Linked DNA regions of Homo sapiens: region 1 is linked to region 2. Evidence: fine-mapped expression QTL. Tissue or cell type: whole blood. Region 2 holds a variant in brackets; the other region holds the start of a gene. All regions are shown on one strand. Distances are between the middles of the regions.

What was found. PIP is the estimated chance that this variant, and not a neighbour inherited with it, causes the effect.
Region 1: it holds the start of PPP2R3C, and the variant in region 2 is fine-mapped to the expression of PPP2R3C in whole blood (INTERVAL, PIP 0.98).

What each region holds. Positions count from the first base shown.
Region 1 is chr14:35,117,514-35,125,692 of GRCh38, forward strand. PPP2R3C (protein phosphatase 2 regulatory subunit B''gamma) reads right to left here and starts at 4,477. Exons shown (of 13, transcript NM_017917.4): 1 at 4,389-4,477. The coding sequence starts at 4,446. It overlaps PRORP (protein only RNase P catalytic subunit), which reads left to right and starts at 5,039. Exons shown (of 8, transcript NM_014672.4): 1 at 5,039-5,122; 2 at 5,439-6,718. The coding sequence starts at 5,733. It overlaps PRORP-PSMA6 (PRORP-PSMA6 readthrough), which reads left to right and starts at 4,326. Exons shown (of 15, transcript NR_182666.1): 1 at 4,326-4,539; 2 at 5,439-6,718. RefSeq lists enhancers at 3,681-4,880, 4,100-5,019, 4,263-4,392, 4,933-5,012, 5,020-5,939 and 1 more.
Region 2 is chr14:35,043,606-35,051,784 of GRCh38, forward strand. It overlaps FAM177A1 (family with sequence similarity 177 member A1), which reads left to right and starts at 2,667. Exons shown (of 5, transcript NM_173607.5): 1 at 2,667-3,023. The coding sequence starts at 2,859. RefSeq lists enhancers at 2,187-2,386, 3,107-3,376, 3,477-3,536 and a silencer at 2,507-2,856. The variant G/T (reference allele first, on the strand shown) is at 3,402.

The sequences.
Region 1 (8,179 bases), 74 kb after region 2:
CCTTTCTGGTAATTCAAAACCTCACTGCCATACCATTTCCACTTCAGCCTCACTGAGCTCTTGAATTCTGTGATCTATTTTCTCAAAAGTTATTTTACTCTTTCTGGTCTCATTTCCTTCCCAACAAGCCTGTAATTGTTTCCTTGAATTCCTTTTATGACTGCATTTCTGCTGCATCTGTTAATTTTTTTTTTTTTGGAGATGGAGCTTCACTCTTGTTGCCCAGGCTGGGGCGCAATGGTACGATCTCGGGTCACGGCAACCTCCGCCTCCCAGGTTCAAGGGATTCTCCTGCCTCAGCCTCCTGAGTGGCTGGGATTACGGGCATGTGCCACCACGCCTGGCTAATTTTGTATTTTTAGTAGAGATGGGGCTTCTCCATGTTGGTCAGGCTGGTCTTGAACTCCTGACCTCAGGTGATCTGCCCACCTCGGCCTCCCAAAGTGCTGGGATTACAGGCATGAGCCACCATGCCTGGCCTATTATGTTAATTTTTAACCTTAGACCAAACCTATAAGTTAATTTCTTTACTATGGCTCAGTGCTGTTGTAGAAAACTGCAAAATTTTTCAAGCAAAGTCAAGACTGACAACTGACCACTGAAGTTAACAATATAGCAGTCACTGATGATTCTTGACAAGCAGGAATTCGAGACGAGTACAGATTTAACCAACAACTGTTTTAACAAATATTGCTATAAGGGGAACAGAAAAATGAGGAATGGCTAGAGGTGGAAATTAAGTCAAGAAAGTTTAAGATGGGAGAAATACCAGCATGTTTATATGCTGATGGGAATGATTAAAGAAAAACTGATGATACAGGAGAAGGGACAACTGCAAGAGTACATCCTTCAGCAGGCAAAAATGGAATCTACTACAAAGGATAGGATCTAGTACACTGATGAAGGAACCAGACTTACGCAGGTGCTGTACAACCTATATAATTTACTTATTATTTTATTATTTCTCTCCACACTAAAGTGTAAGTTCTACAAAGACAGAGATTTTTTTGTGTTCTGCTATAAGCTACAACGGTACTTGGCACAAAACAGGCATGCAATAAATATCTGCTAAAAGAATGCAGTGGGTTTAAGAGTTAAGGGGTCAAGAAAGCACACAAAGTACAAGTACAGGTACCTTCCTTTTTTTTTTTTTTTTTTCCGAGACTGAGTCTCACTGTCACCCAGGCTGGAGGGCAGTGGCGCGATCTTGGCTCACTGCAAACTTCACCTCCTGGGTTGAAGTGATTCTCCTGCCTCAGCCTCCTGAGTAGCTGGGATTACAGACACTTGCCACAATGCCCGGCTAAATTTTGTATTTTTAGTAGAGAGAGCGTTTCACCACGTTGGCCAGGCTGGTCTGTCTCCTGACCTCAGGTGATCCACCCACTTCAGCCTCCCAAAGTGCTGGGATTACAGGCATGAGCCACTGCGCCCAGCCAAGTACAGGTAACTTCTTTGAGAAGTTTTCCTATGAAGAGTGCAGAGAAATGCAACAGAAGCTGGAGAGGGATGTGGGATCAAATGACTTTTTTTTTTTTTTTTGAGATGTAGTCTCGTTCTATCGCCCAGGCTGGAGAGCAGTGTCGTAATCTCAGCTCACCGCAACTTCTGCCTCCTGGGTTCAAGCGATTCTCCCGCTTCAGCCTCCCAAGTAGCTGGGATTACAGGTGTGCACCACTGCGCCCAGCTACTTTTTGTATTTTTAGTAGAGACGGACTTTCACCATGTTGGCCAGGCTGGTCTTGAACTCCTGACCTCAAGTGATCTGCCTACCTCGGCCTCCCGAAGTGTTGGGATTACAGGTGTAAGCCACAGTGCCCAGCCCAAATGAATTTTTTTTAAGACAGGGTCTGGCTCTTGTCACCCAGGCTGCAGTATAGTGTCATGATCATAGCTCACTGCAGCCCCAAACTCCTAGACTGAAACAACCCTCCCTGCTTCAGCCTCTCGAGTAGCTAGGACTACAGTGGTGCACAACCACCCGGGCTAATTTTTTACTTTCTATTTTTGTAGAAACGGTGTTTCACTATGTTGCCCAGGCTGGTCTCAAACTCCTGGCCTCAAGCGATCTTCCCATCTCGGCCTCCCAAAGTGCTGGGGTTACATGAATGAGCCACCGAGCCTCCCAACACCACTACCCCCGACCACCCACCTTTTAAAAAGATGGGTGATATTAACAGCACGTTTGTGCTGGTGTAAATGATCCAGCAGAAGGAAAATCTGATGATGTAGGAAAGAAAGGAGGAGGCTGGAAGGAAGTCAGTGAATACAGGGAAAAGAATGCAATCTAGTGGTGGACTGGAGGGACTCTTAAATAGGAGCATGGACAGTTCATCTTTTTTTTTTTTTTTTTTTGAGACGGAGTCTCGCTCTGTCGCCCAGGCTGGAGTGCAGTGGCACAATCTCCGGCTCACTACAACCTCCGCCTCCCGGGTTCACGCCATTCTCCTGCCTCAGCCTCCTGAGTAGCTGGGACTACAGGCGCCCGCCACCGCACCCGTCTAATTTTTTGTATTTTTAGTAGAGACGGGGTTTCACTGCGGTCTCAGTCTCCTGACCTCGTGATCCGCCCGCCTCGGCCTCCCAAAGTGCTGGGATTACAGGCTTGAGCCACCGCGCCCGGCATCAGTTCATCATTTTAACAGTGAAGCCAGAGTGTATGGGCAACTAACTGTGGGGTTGTGGGGCTGAAAGAAATGTTAAGGGGGACAGGTGATGTTCTCCTCTGACTGCTTCTCCTTTTTTTTTGAGACTGAGTGTCGCTCGGTCGCCCAGGCCGGAGTGCAGTGGCACAATCTCGGGCTCACTGCAAGCTCCGCCTCTCGGGTTGAAGGTATTCTCCTGCCTCAACCTCTGGAGTAGCTGGGACTATAGGCGCCCGCCACCACTACCGGGTAATTTTTTTGTATTTTTAGTAGAGACGGGGTTTCACCGTGTTAGCCAGGATGGTCTCGATCTGCTGACCTCGTGATCCGCCCGCCTCGGCCTCCCAAAGTGCTGGGATTACAGGACTGAGCGACCGCGCCCGGCCGACTGCTTCTCCTTTCTTAATGAGATATATATTAAAATACAAGTTCATCAGCTTAAAGTAAGAAGCGGGTAGGACAGACTGCAGGTGTAGGAGATGAGAAGAATAGTGTAAAAGAGTGTTGCCTGGGTGCGGCGGCTCACGTCTGTAATAGCAACACTTTGGGAGGTGGAGGTAGGAAGACTGCCTGAGGCCAGGAATTCGAGACCAGCCCAGGCAACATAGCAAGACCTCATCTCCACTAAAAATAAAAAATTAGCCGGGTGTGGTGGCGTGTGCCTGTACTTCTAGCTGCTCAAGAGGCTGGGGTGGGAAGATCCCTTGAGCCCAGGAAATCGAGGTTGCAGCAATACTTCACTGCGCCGCTGCACTCCAGCCTGGGCAACACAGGGAGATCCTGTATCGGAAAAAAAAAAGTGTATTTAGGAAAACACAGATTGGCAGTTTGGGAGATGAAAATTGAATGTAGGAGAATGAACGTCCAGGAAAACACGGTAGACATGACCAAAACACCTTCTTTAGATTAGTGGACTTGTATTAAAAGTGAGATAACTCGGCGGGGCGCGGTGACTCACGTCTGTAATTCCAGCACTTTGGGAGGCCGAGGTGGGCGAATCACAAGGTCAGGAGTTTGAGACCAGCCTGGCCAATATGGCGAAACCCCGTCTCTACTAGAAATACAAAAATTAACCGGCCGTGGTTGCGCGCGCTTATAGTTCCAGCTACTCCAGAGGCTGAGGCAGAAGAACCGCTTGAACCCGGGAGGCAGAGGTTGCAGTGAGCGGAGATGCTGCCACTGCACTCCAGCCAGCCTGGGCGACAGAGCAAGAGACTCCGTCTCAAAAAAAAAAGTGAGACAACTCACCAAGGTTCTGTTTTTCTCCAGCCACTTTCAACAGCCCTTAGTGCGGGTGTGGAATAGGAAAGGTAGATTTAACGAGGTTAGTTAATAAGCAATGTGAAGGAGAAAAATAAAAGGAAAAATGGATTATGAAATATAAAATGGATTACGAGGGAAGCAAAAAGCGTGACAGTAAAAAGGCAGGAGGACAATTATAGGTCCTGGTGGGGTTCAGGCGTTGTTGGAGCCGGGGTTCCAAGTTATTCTTCACAAGTTTAGATTAAGACCATGGAAGTCAGTGACTAAAGCTAAGTTTTTCGTTCCTCTAGATTCTGCCCCAGGAAAGTTTGGGTCAAACCTATCGGGATCCTTAAACCACATTCCACTCCGCCTCCTTTGTCGGGAGGTTTCACAGAAGCGGAAAAGGCGGCTCCCCCTTGCTCCTCCTCCCCACCTCCCCCCTACCTCTAGGAGTTTAGGGCCGGGCCATCCCAACGGGCTGCCCCTCCCAAAACTCACTGTTTGGACAGGTGTTGGGCGTCGCTAGGCGCCGACGAAGAACTTCTTTCCAGTCCATGGCCGACTTCCGCGCAGCAGCTTCTGCATTTGCTGTTTCCTACCTGCTCCACCCCTACCAGCTCAGGCGTCAGCACCGCCAGGCCCCGTAAAGGTTAGGAAGGCCGTCCAACCACCATCTTGATCGAGGGCGGAAGTCTTGGCTAAAGAGGCAAAAACAATTACTGTCACTGCCGCGGAGAATACCGCTACCACGCTGACTGGGGGAAAAAACTATGAAAGAGATGGAAAATGGTTCTCCTTCAGAGGCGACCCAAGCTCACCAAGCCGGATTTTAAAGGCCACGATAAGCCCGCGTTTTCCTTTATCGTGTGCCTTTGGCGCGTGCGCACCACGTGACCCAGGAGTTCATTAGTTCCGGCTTGAGGGAAGCGCCTTCTTTCACAATTTCTTTTCATTGTTCATTGCGGATATCTGGAAGCCTTCCAGGTCCCCTGAATGTAGTAGACACTTCAGCAGCCGTCTCCTACCCCTTTTGCCACTAAATGCTTCAAAACTGCCTTTTTTCCTCGCCGCCGGGCCAGGCGGAACGCCTAAGTCCGGGTCAGTCTCGTCCGTCGGTCGGGGCTGGCGCGGTGCATCGTGGGCACTGTAGTTTCCGCCGCGTTTATGGCCGCGTTAAGTCTGAGTGCCGCTTTGAGTTGTTGAATGAAGTGAACTTCATTTGTCAGCGTTCGGTACGCAGTCTAGGCAGCGCCCTTCCTGTACCTCTCTTCCTTTCCTGAGTCGTTGGCGCAGCTGACTCGCCACCTCCTCCCTCCTCGTCCCCCCACCGGAGGAGTTTTGCGGTCTGTAGAGAGCTATGCAGGGTGAGGGCCCCTAGACTTCGGCTTTCGCCGCTGTTGGTGGTAGGCTGGAGTTGGGGGTCCCTGGATACGGTTTTGGCTTTACACCCCCTTTCCAGCAAGCTTCCCGTGGGAATCTGTTCCTTTTCAGGACAGCTGTGATCCACGTGAGTAAAACTGGGCGTTCCGTCTTGTGCTTTTTCCTCAGGTTCATGAACTGGAATGTAAGAGGCACCAGAGGATTCCTGCTCTGTCCCCTGGTTTGCGGCTTGCGACGTTGGACATCCCCGGATTGTTGTTTAATAGAGAAAACTCACCTGCCTTCTTGCTTTTAAGTAGCCCCAAAAGCAGAACCTTGATTTGTCTGTAAGGAAGAAACACAAACCTTTTAAAAAGTTCCACTTCGACTCTGCACCGCCGACCCCCAATCTCTTTAATTTTGCCATAGAAGAGGGGTTTTTTCAACATCTCTCTCACTATCTGGTGCTGATCTCACTGCATAATGACTTTCTATTTGTTTGGTATTCGAAGCTTTCCGAAGCTTTGGAAGAGCCCATACCTTGGGCTAGGCCCAGGGCACTCTTATGTCTCGCTGTTTCTGGCAGACCGCTGTGGCATCAGGAACCAGCAGAGGTTGTTTTCTCTTAAAACAATGTCTCCACAGAATACCAAAGCAACGAATCTGATTGCCAAGGCCAGATATCTCAGGAAAGATGAGGGCAGTAATAAGCAAGTTTATTCTGTTCCTCATTTTTTTTTAGCTGGAGCAGCTAAGGAGAGATCACAGATGAATTCTCAAACTGAAGATCATGCCTTGGCACCTGTGAGGAACACTATTCAACTCCCAACACAACCTTTGAATTCAGAGGAGTGGGATAAACTTAAGGAAGATTTAAAAGAAAACACCGGAAAGACCAGTTTCGAAAGTTGGATCATTTCACAGATGGCTGGCTGTCATAGCTCTATAGATGTGGCTAAATCTCTGCTGGCATGGGTAGCAGCCAAAAATAATGGTATTGTAAGTTACGATTTACTGGTCAAGTATTTGTATCTCTGTGTCTTTCATATGCAGACATCTGAAGTTATTGATGTCTTTGAAATTATGAAAGCCAGATATAAGACTTTAGAACCTAGAGGTTACAGTCTTCTCATCCGGGGATTGATCCATTCAGACAGATGGAGAGAAGCATTGTTGCTGTTAGAGGACATCAAAAAAGTTATAACTCCTTCAAAAAAGAACTATAATGACTGTATCCAGGGAGCTCTCCTTCATCAAGATGTAAACACAGCTTGGAATTTATATCAGGAATTGCTAGGTCATGATATTGTTCCTATGTTGGAAACTTTAAAAGCTTTCTTTGATTTTGGAAAAGACATAAAGGATGATAACTATTCAAATAAACTACTAGATATTCTTTCATATCTAAGAAATAATCAGCTGTATCCAGGGGAGTCATTTGCACACAGTATAAAAACATGGTTTGAGAGGTAATTTTGGTTTTTTTATATGTATGTTTTTATTCTTTAATTTTTTTTTTTTTTGAGACAGGGTCTTGCTCTGTTGCCCAGACTGGAGTGCAGTGGTGTGTTCATAGCTCACTGTAACCTCAAACTCCTGGCCTCAAGTGATCCTCTCGCTTCAGTCTCCTCAGTAGCTAAAACCACAGGCATGTGCCACCATACCTGGCTAATTATTTTTAATTTAATAACTTTAAACCTCAAAGTAGCCATTCTTTTTTGTTGTTAGTTGCTGAGAATCACTCTTCTGATTATACTTTTTTCCATCTCTTAGTAAGATTTATTTTCTCTTTACGACAAAATTTTCTCTCTTTAAAAAAAGTAACAACATACATAATTTGTGCTAATCTTTACCCATCACATAAAACTGAAATTATATAGCAGTTTTAATTTTTACATTTTTTTCCTTTTGGAAGGATCATTAATTTTGTTTTCTTAGGCATCTAGTATGATGTGAGTACTTAATACTACTTATGGCCACTGTTCATAGCAAGAAAAGAATATAGCATTTGACTAGAACTGTCTCTGGCCATATTAGTATTTTCAGAAGTTCCTCTGAAATCTAGCGACTGAGATAATATGCTTATATTTATTCTGTCTACTCTCTCCCTTTTTTTTTTTTTTGAGACGGAGTTTTGCTCTTGTTGCCAGGCTAGAGTGCAATGGCATGATCTCGGCTCATTGTAACCTTTGCCTCCCGGGTTTTCTCCTGCCTCACACTCCCGAGTAGCTGGGATTACAGGCATGCGCCACCATGCCCTGCTAATTTTCTATTTTCTTTTTAGTAGAGACGGGGTTTCTCTATGTTGGTCAGGCTGCTCTCGAACTACCTCAGGTGATCCGCCTGCCTCGGCCTCCCAAAGTGCTGGGATTACAGGCGTGAACCACCGCGTCCGGCCTATTCTGTCTACTATCTATAGTTCATCAACTTGGATGATTAGAGTGGACAGGGGGATATTGATCAAGCCTTATACGTAAGCATTACAATGGAAAATCTTAACCCTTCCAGTTTGTTTTGGACCTTTCTATCATTTGGCTGCTGTCTCTCTAAAGCTCTCTCCTTTGGTTTGCTTTTGCTTTATTCATGTTACTGGGTACATACCTGTTTATTGCTTTAGTCTTTTTTAAAATTTTTGAAAATTTTTACTTATTTTTTAAAATTAATATTCTTTTTTTAAGAGGTGGGGTCTTGCTGTGTTGACCAGGCTGGACTCAAACTCTTGGCCTCAAGCGATCAGGTGTGAGCCACCATGCTTAGTCATTATTTCTTCATTAATTTGCTTCCTAAAAATTTGTTCCTTCCCTCTGTTTTTCTCTTGCCTTTTTTTCCCCTATATCATGTTTACGGAGCTTTGAAGCAGTAATTATGCTTAATTATCTTAAACTTACTGAAGATCAAGGGAGGAGGAGCCCATTTGTGAAAATCTTTGA
Region 2 (8,179 bases):
ATGCTTAGACTGAACCTAAAATGCATTTTTATTTTTATCATCTTTTTTTCTTGTGCATTATTTTTGATGAAAATATATTGTCCTGTTTGATGGATAACTTAAAAAATTCTCTATCAAAGTATATATATGTAGCTATGTTAAAACCCTAAGAATGTCTTGTTTATTTGATGAACATTCCTGGTTATCAAATTTTATTCAGATTTATTTTCCCAGCCTTACGCAGAAATGGTTCAATCCAAATTTACCTTTTTAGCTCTATATGTATCATTAAATGATAAATTTAGACCACATTATGTTTTCAAGTAGATAAATTATCATAATACTTGAATTTATTTTTGTCATAGTGCTACGATACAATTTATGTTACAAAGTGAAAGAAGGAAAAATTTGGCACATTGCCTTGGTGCCTACTTTTGGTTGAGCTATAACAGTTTGGAAATAATGACAAAAATATAAATGTCCAAAATAAAACCATTAGAATTTCTATGCTTTTATGTTGCTTTGAGTTGTTGATTTGTTTTGTTTTTGTTTTTTTGAGACGGAGTCTCGCTCTGTCGCCCAGGCTGGAGTGCAGTGGCGCGGTCTCGGCTCACTGCAAGCTCCGCCTCCCGGGTTCACGCCATTCTCCTGCCCCAGCCTCCCGAGTAGCTGGGACTACAGGCGCCCGCCACCACGCCCGGCTAATTTTTTGTATTTTATAGTAGAGACGGGGTTTCACCGTGTTAGCCAGGATGGTCTCGATCTCCTGACCTCGTGATCCACCCGCCTCCGCCTCCCAAAGTGCTGGGATTACAGGCGTGAGCCACCGTGCCCAGCCCGAGTTGTTGATTTGTAATAAACTGCTCTTCAATTGGATATTTGTGTTAAAAATAACTTTTTAGGAAATACTTCCAGTTCACGTTAGAATGTAACTTGTACTTTGAATTTTCAGTAAACTAAGAAATACACATGTAAACTGTGAAAATATATTCTGCTTCGGCAATGAAAATTGTAATTTGAGGCCAGGCGTGGTGGCTCACGCCTGTAATCCCAGCACTTTGGGAGGCTGAGGTGGGTGGATCATCTGAGGTCGGAAGTTCGATACTAGCCTGGCCAACATGGTGAAACCCCGTCTCTACTAACAATACAAAAATTAGCCGGGCGTGGTAGTGCACAACTGTAATCCCAGCTACTTGGCAGGCTGAGGTGGGGGAATCGCTTGAACCCGGGAGGCGGATGTTGCAGTGCGCCAAGATTGCGCCATTGCACTCCAGCGTGGGTGAGACCCCATCTCAAAAAAAAAAAAAAAGAAAAAAAAGAAAAAGAAAATTGTAATTTGATATTTAATTGCCACTTTGGAAAATAAAATCATGCATTTATAAATATCCCACAAAGTTTTAGTAATAAAGATTGTTGATTGCCCTGCTTGCCAGTAAGAAGGAAGAGATTTTGAATACATATAATGCAGAACTGTGTTGTTTATGAATGCCAATTCATGAAGTCTTAACAATTGGTTCTTTATTTTTGTTTTCAATTTATGGCCGAGTTTGGTTTTGCTGTTTTGGACTGTCTCAACTCCCTGCTGATGCCACCATACAGAGTCAGATCAGGTACTAACTTGTTTACTTCAGCAGCAACCTAACTTGATTTTATTACCAGGATAGAGAGCAATATGGATTTCCAACTAGTTTTTAAGGCGTAGATGGTTTTCAAATGATTATTTGTTTTTTAAAGTTTTTGGTTTTGTTTTTAGGTTCCAGTTATACATAGAATAGGAAGTGTACAATAACATTAGGCAGAGGGTAAGGAGAAGAACTTTGGCACAGAAGAGAAAGGAATATTTAATATTTGGGCCTGCTGTTGCTATGATGAAAAACATTTACAAGGTCATACAACTTTAGGGAGCATTTCTGAATTGAGACTAGTATGAAAATGGAATTTAAAGTATCAAATGAAGCCTCCCATAGCCAAAATAATGTATGTTTTGGTTTTGCCCCCTACATATTTGTGAAAACTTTCATGCTAAAACAACAATATACCATTTACCTGCAGAACCTCAGACTTGTTTGATGTTGAAGTCATGCAGTAATTGCATGATTTTTTACTTTCGTTGAACATTGCGAAAGACGGAAAAAATCTGGGACGCCCCCTCTAACATACGCACACGACTTTAAGACACAGATAAAACATTCCTTACATTTGTCAAGATGGAAGCTTACTACTGCCCTTTGCTCTCCTTCAGGTCTTTTCACTTAACACTTTCTACAGTTATACTTAAGTATTTCAGACAAGAGTAAGCAAATATCACGCCTGGGGTTCTTCTTTCGAGGGTATTTTGGCTGGACTGTCACCCACGTTTGGAATGGAAAGTGCAGCACGAGCCGTACATTTTACATTTTTCAGCAACCACATCCCATCACTAGCCTTTGAAGTACAACGACACAGCTGTCTTCATTTTACAAGTGCAAAAACCGAGGTCCTGCGGGGTGACTGCCCCAGACGCCGCTGGTGACGGGCTGCGCCGAGGTCGAGACGCCAGGCTTCAGGTACACGTACCAGAAATGACGTCACAGGCGGTGCCAGGCGGGGATCCACGAGCTCTGGATGCTTGCTTGGCCGGAAGCGACGCCCCGCAAGGACCCGCCCCGCCCCGCCCCGCCCCGCGCGAGCCGGTAGTTGCGCCTCCCAGACTGCAGTTGGCCAGCTCTCGGGGTGCGGAGCCCGGCGGGCTAGGCGAGGCGCGGGCTGGCCCCGCCCCTCAGGCCGGCGAGTCCCCTTCTCAGAGACTTGGCTAGGCGCGGCGCGAGGCGGGCGCTGGGCGGGTGAGTCCCACTTCCCGACAGCCTGGCTCGGCCAGCGACTGGGCGGGGAGACCAAGGATGGAAGTGGGCTTACCGGCCATTACCCTCTTTCTCACCAGCGCCAGCAGCCCTGTGGTGGCGACGACGATGGACCAGGAGCCAGTGGGCGGTGTGGAACGAGGAGAAGCCGTCGCAGCCTCGGGAGCTGCGGCCGCCGCGGCATTCGGGGAATCTGCAGGGCAGGTAGGTGGGGCCGCCGAGGCTGACGTCCGGGGAGCCGAGCCGCCTCCTTGCCTTCTCCGCGGGCCGCTCTTTTAGCCTGCGCGGCCGTCCTCCGAGCAGGCCGCCCCAGCTTTGGAGTTCCTCCTCACTGCACCCCTGTTTCTGCTCACTGAGACCAGCTTGTGGGAAGGAGCGCCCCCCGCCTCACTCACCAACCCCTTGGCTGGCAGCACAGCAGACTCTGGGGCGGCCTCGGGTTCCTGGGGTGATAGTCCAGCTTCTGGTCTACCAGAGGAAGAAGAAAGGCGTGTCCCCCAAAGGCTGTCCTTGCAGTAGCTGGAAGCCAGGTGAGGGCGGCTTCAACCACTTCTCAGTCTCTTCTGGTGCGAGCGCCTGCCT[G/T]GGCATCTGCCCTTTGCTTGGCATATGCCAAACGTTTACCAGCTTTAATTCACTGGATCCTTACAGTAACCGCTCGAGGTGGGTGTTAGCCCCATTTCACCGCCGAGGCAACTAAGGCTCCGAGCTGCGCTGTCCAACATAAATAGAATGCAAGCTGCATTGAAAATTGTAATTTAAAATTTTCCAGTAGGCACGTTTTAAAAAAGTGAAACCGATATTAATTTTAATAGCATATCTTATTTAACCTAATTTATCAAAACAATTTCAACCTAAAATTACTATGAAAGTTATTAATGAAGTATTTGCATTCTCTTTTGGAGTCTTTTCTAAGTCTTTTAAATCCTGGGTGCATTTTACACGCATAGCATATCGCAGTTCTGGCTGACCACATTTCAAGTGCGCATTAGCCACATGTGGCTAGTGGTTACTGTATTGGACAGCGCTGGTTTAGAGAGTTAACGTTTCTTGCAACTTTTCAGTATTAGACAAAAAGACACTTTGGGAGGCCAAGGCGGGTGGATCACCTGAGGTCAGGAGTTCAAGACCAGTCTGGCCAACATGGTGAAACCCCTTCTCTACTAAAAATACAAAAATTAGCTGGGCGTGGTGGCGCTCGCCTGTAGTCCCAGCTACTCGGGAGGCTGAGGCAGGAGAATTGCTTGAACCCTGGAGGTGGAGGTTGCAGTGAGCCGAGATCACGCCACTGCACTCCAGGCTGGAGACAGAGCGAGACTCCGTCTCAAAACAGCAACAACAACAACAACAACAACAACAACAAAAAAAAAACCCTTGAGTTGCTCATGTATGTAACTCTTCCCATCCTCCATGAGAATGAAGCTTTTTCAGTAGCTTCATTTTTGAGACTAAGTACCTGAATGTTAGTAAGACATTTCCCCCAAACTGTGAGTATATCTCTGTGTATCTCTTATAGTATAAGATGTCGTTTGCATTAACAAAAGCTTATCCAGCCTGGGCAACAGAGCAAGAACCCATCTCTTAAATAAAAAACTAAAGAAACCCCAAAAACAAAAAACACAACTTTCCCACATACCAAACTCTATATGGAATACGTTTTTTCCCTCCTACTTAAGAAGGGGATTCAGGGGACAACATGAATTGATAAGGAAGCCACGTCATTTTCAGTTGAGTTGAGACCTATTGTTGGCAAGTGCACTTACACTTAACCTTTGAGTCCATGGTGCTTGATATGTTTTTCAATTTGATTTTTCCTGTTGTTACTAGAATTGTTTTTTTAAAATCACTACCTCCGCCCTGGATCTAATAGCAAAGTAAACACACGTGTACTTATATACCAGCTAAATGTTGTTTGAAGTGAGAGGCTCTTTGATTGGGGTTAGTGATATTCTGTTGTTTTCACATTCTTGGTTAACAAATAAGTACTTAACCAGTAAAGAAGGCTGTAGAACAAAAGATAAAAATTCACAGGAATACCCCACCACCACCCTTTCTTCATGTTCTCATTCCCCAAAGGTAACTATTAAGTTTTGGTGTAGTCTCTCTGGAATTTTATCATTCAATATTATATATTTCTTATATATTATATATATTATTAAATATTAAATATCTCTTCTTTCTTGTTAAACACCAATGAGTTCCATTTTCTGATTTGCCCTTTGTGCTTTCAGATTCACATTCCTGAATCAGAAACATCTTTGGGAACTCCAGTTCTATGCCCAGGGGGTTGAGCACAGTAACAGGGAAGTGGACATCTCAGGAGATGGAGAGGCCTCTATCTTACACTTCTTCCCAAGTTTGGCAGAACTGAGAAATCCCTAGTGCAATGTAGGGAAAGGGAGTAAGAGATAGGAGATAGGGTCTAGAATTAGGCCTCCAAACAGGCCATCCAGTACCTGTTGTGACATTCTTTTTTTTTTTTTTTTTAAGACGGAGTCTCACTCTGTGGCCCAGGCTGGAGTGCAGTGGCATGATCTTGGCTCACTGCAACCTCCACCTCCCGGGTTCACGCAATTCTCTTGCCTCAGCCTCCTGAGTAGCTAGGACTACAGGCGCACGCAACCACATCTGGCTAATTTTTGTATTTTTAGTAGAGGTGGGGTTTCACCATCTTGGTCAGGCTGGTCTTGAAGTCCTGACCTTGTGATCCACCTGCTGCCTTGGCCTCCCAAAGTGCTGGGATTACAGGTGTGAGCCACCGCACCCGGCCTCCTGTTGTGACATTCTATCCAGCAGCTTCTCTGAATAGACTTTTAACCAGAATCTCAGCCTCAATGTTTTTAAAGGAGTTAAAATTTCAGTACCACTCAGTGATTGATTTATTTGGTACCTCTGTTACCAAGCACTTACTATGTGCCAGGAACTCTAGGCTGAAAGATATAGCAGTACCTACCCCCATGTTGCTAATAGCCTAGTTGGGGAAGATGACAAAGAATAAATTCTAAGTCTAGTATGTGTTTTAAAGAAGTCTGGGTGCCATGGGAGTATATACAAAAAATTGCCATTAAAACCAGATCCTGAGCTGGGCAGAGTGGCTCACACCTATAATCCCAGCACTTTGGAAGGCTGAGGCCAGTGGATCACTTGAGGTCAGGAGTTCGAGACCAGCCTGGCCAACGTGATGAAACCCTCATCTCTACTAAAAATAGAAAAATTAGCTGGGCATTATGGCTCACGCCTGTAGTCCCAGCTACTCGGGAGGCTGAGGCAGGAGAATCGCTGAAACCCAGGAGGTAGAGGTTGCAGTGAGCCAAGATCGCACCACTGCATTCCAGCCTGGATGACAGAGCAAGACTCCTTTTCAAAAAAGAAAAAAACAGATCCTGAGAATAAAGATAAGCACATTTATAGTTTGGTTAACTATAAAATGGAGTAAAATGTTAATTGACATGGTACCTCATAATTTCCTGGTGTTATGAAACTATCTTTCAGATCTTTGGGGTTCGTTATGGAATTTGCATAATTGGCAGTGAAATTTTTCTTACTTGCAGATTTATAAAATGAAGCATTTGGAAAATTCACAGTGTAACTTTTTTTGTTTTTTGAGACAGAATCTCACTCTGTTGCCCAGGCTGAAGTTCATGGCGCGATCTCGGCTCGCTGCAACCTCCACCTCCCGGGTTCAAGCAATTCTCCTGCCTCAGCCTCCTGTGTAGCTGGGATTATAGGCACGCTCCACCGCGCCTGGCTAATTTTTGTATTTTTTTAGTAGAGGTGGGATTTCACCATGTTAGCCAGGGTGGTCTCACACCCTTGACCTCAAGTTGTCTGCCCGCCTCAGTCTCCCAAAGTGCTGGGGTTACAAGCATGAGCCACCATGCCCAGCCACAGTGTAAATTTTATTTGTAATTATTGGATTTCTGGTTCAAGTTGATGTTTGAAAAATAAAAAAAGAAAAATATTTTAAAAATATAATTATTGGGAATTTTGTATCAAATGATTTTCTGGTTGGTTTTACCTGTTAGTGCTTCCTTCATTGCCCCCCACCCCGCCTCCCAAATAGAGGTTGGAATCATTATCCCTCATCTGAAATACTCTAAAATCTGAAGCTTTTTGAGCACTGACATTCCTTCCTTTGCCTGTGTCATAGAAGGAAAAAATTAAGCCAATGAGAGATTGCTAGAGGTAGCAGTGAGAAGCCTCTACTGTCTTGGGGGTGGGATAGGGTGGGGCATGGTGGTATACTGTGAAGGATCTGAGCTCTCTATTCACTGACTGGAGCTGTTGCATTGACATTAGATCCATCCAGTTAGTAGGATGACTGGAGATCTAACTTAGCTCATCTGTCTTTCCTTTGCATAGGAAATTAAGGGATCCAAAAAGCTGAGTCATGGTCCAAAAGGAAACGTTGATGTCAGGACAGCCATAGCCAAATTTTATCTCAAGGGTAAACATGAGACTGGGTAGGGATGGCTGTCAGTGCCTGGGGATTGGTGGGGCTTGGGGGTAGGTAGAAGAAAAGTGTCCTGGGTTAACTACTTGTTTATTTTTTTCATGGACACAATAAATGACCTGATCTTTCCTTGTTAAGGGCTGGGATTTATTTGAACCCTCAGGACAGGCTAGAAAGAATTGTGACTTTTTTTCATGTTAATACATAGGTAGCCTATGTTACCAAATTTTATTTTTTAAGATAGTTTATTATTTTTATTTTTTGAGATGGAGTCTCGCTGTGTGACCCAGACTGGAGTGCAGTGGCACGATCTCAGCTCACTGCAACCGCCACCTCCCGGGTTTAAGTGATTCTCATTCCTCAGCTTCCCGAGTAGCTGGGACTACAGGTGCGTGCCACCACGCCCAGCTAATTTTTGTTTTTTTAGTGGAGACAGGGTTTCACCATGTTGGCCGGGCTGGTCTCCAACTCCTGACATCAGGTTATCTTGCCTTGGCCCCCCAAATTGCTGCCATTATAGGCCTGAGCCACAGCACCCAGCCTTATTTTTATTTTTTTGAGACAGTCTGGCTCTGTTGCCCAGGCTTGAGTGCAGTGGTGCGATCTCGGCTCACTGCAACATCCACCTCCTGGGTTCAAGTGATTCTCATGCCTCAGCCTCCCAAGTAGCTGAAATTACATACGTGTACCACCATGCCTAGCTGATTTTTGTATTTTTAGTAAAGTTGGGGTTTTGCCATGTTGGCCAGCCTGGTCTCGAACTCCTCACCTCATGTGATCCTCCTGCCTCAGCCTCCCAAAGTGCTAGGATTACAGGTATGAGCCACCACGGCTGGCCTGTTACCAAATTTTCATGATCTGCAGTTCAAATCCTGGCTAATGACTAAACTTACCTTTGGGAGGTAAAAGG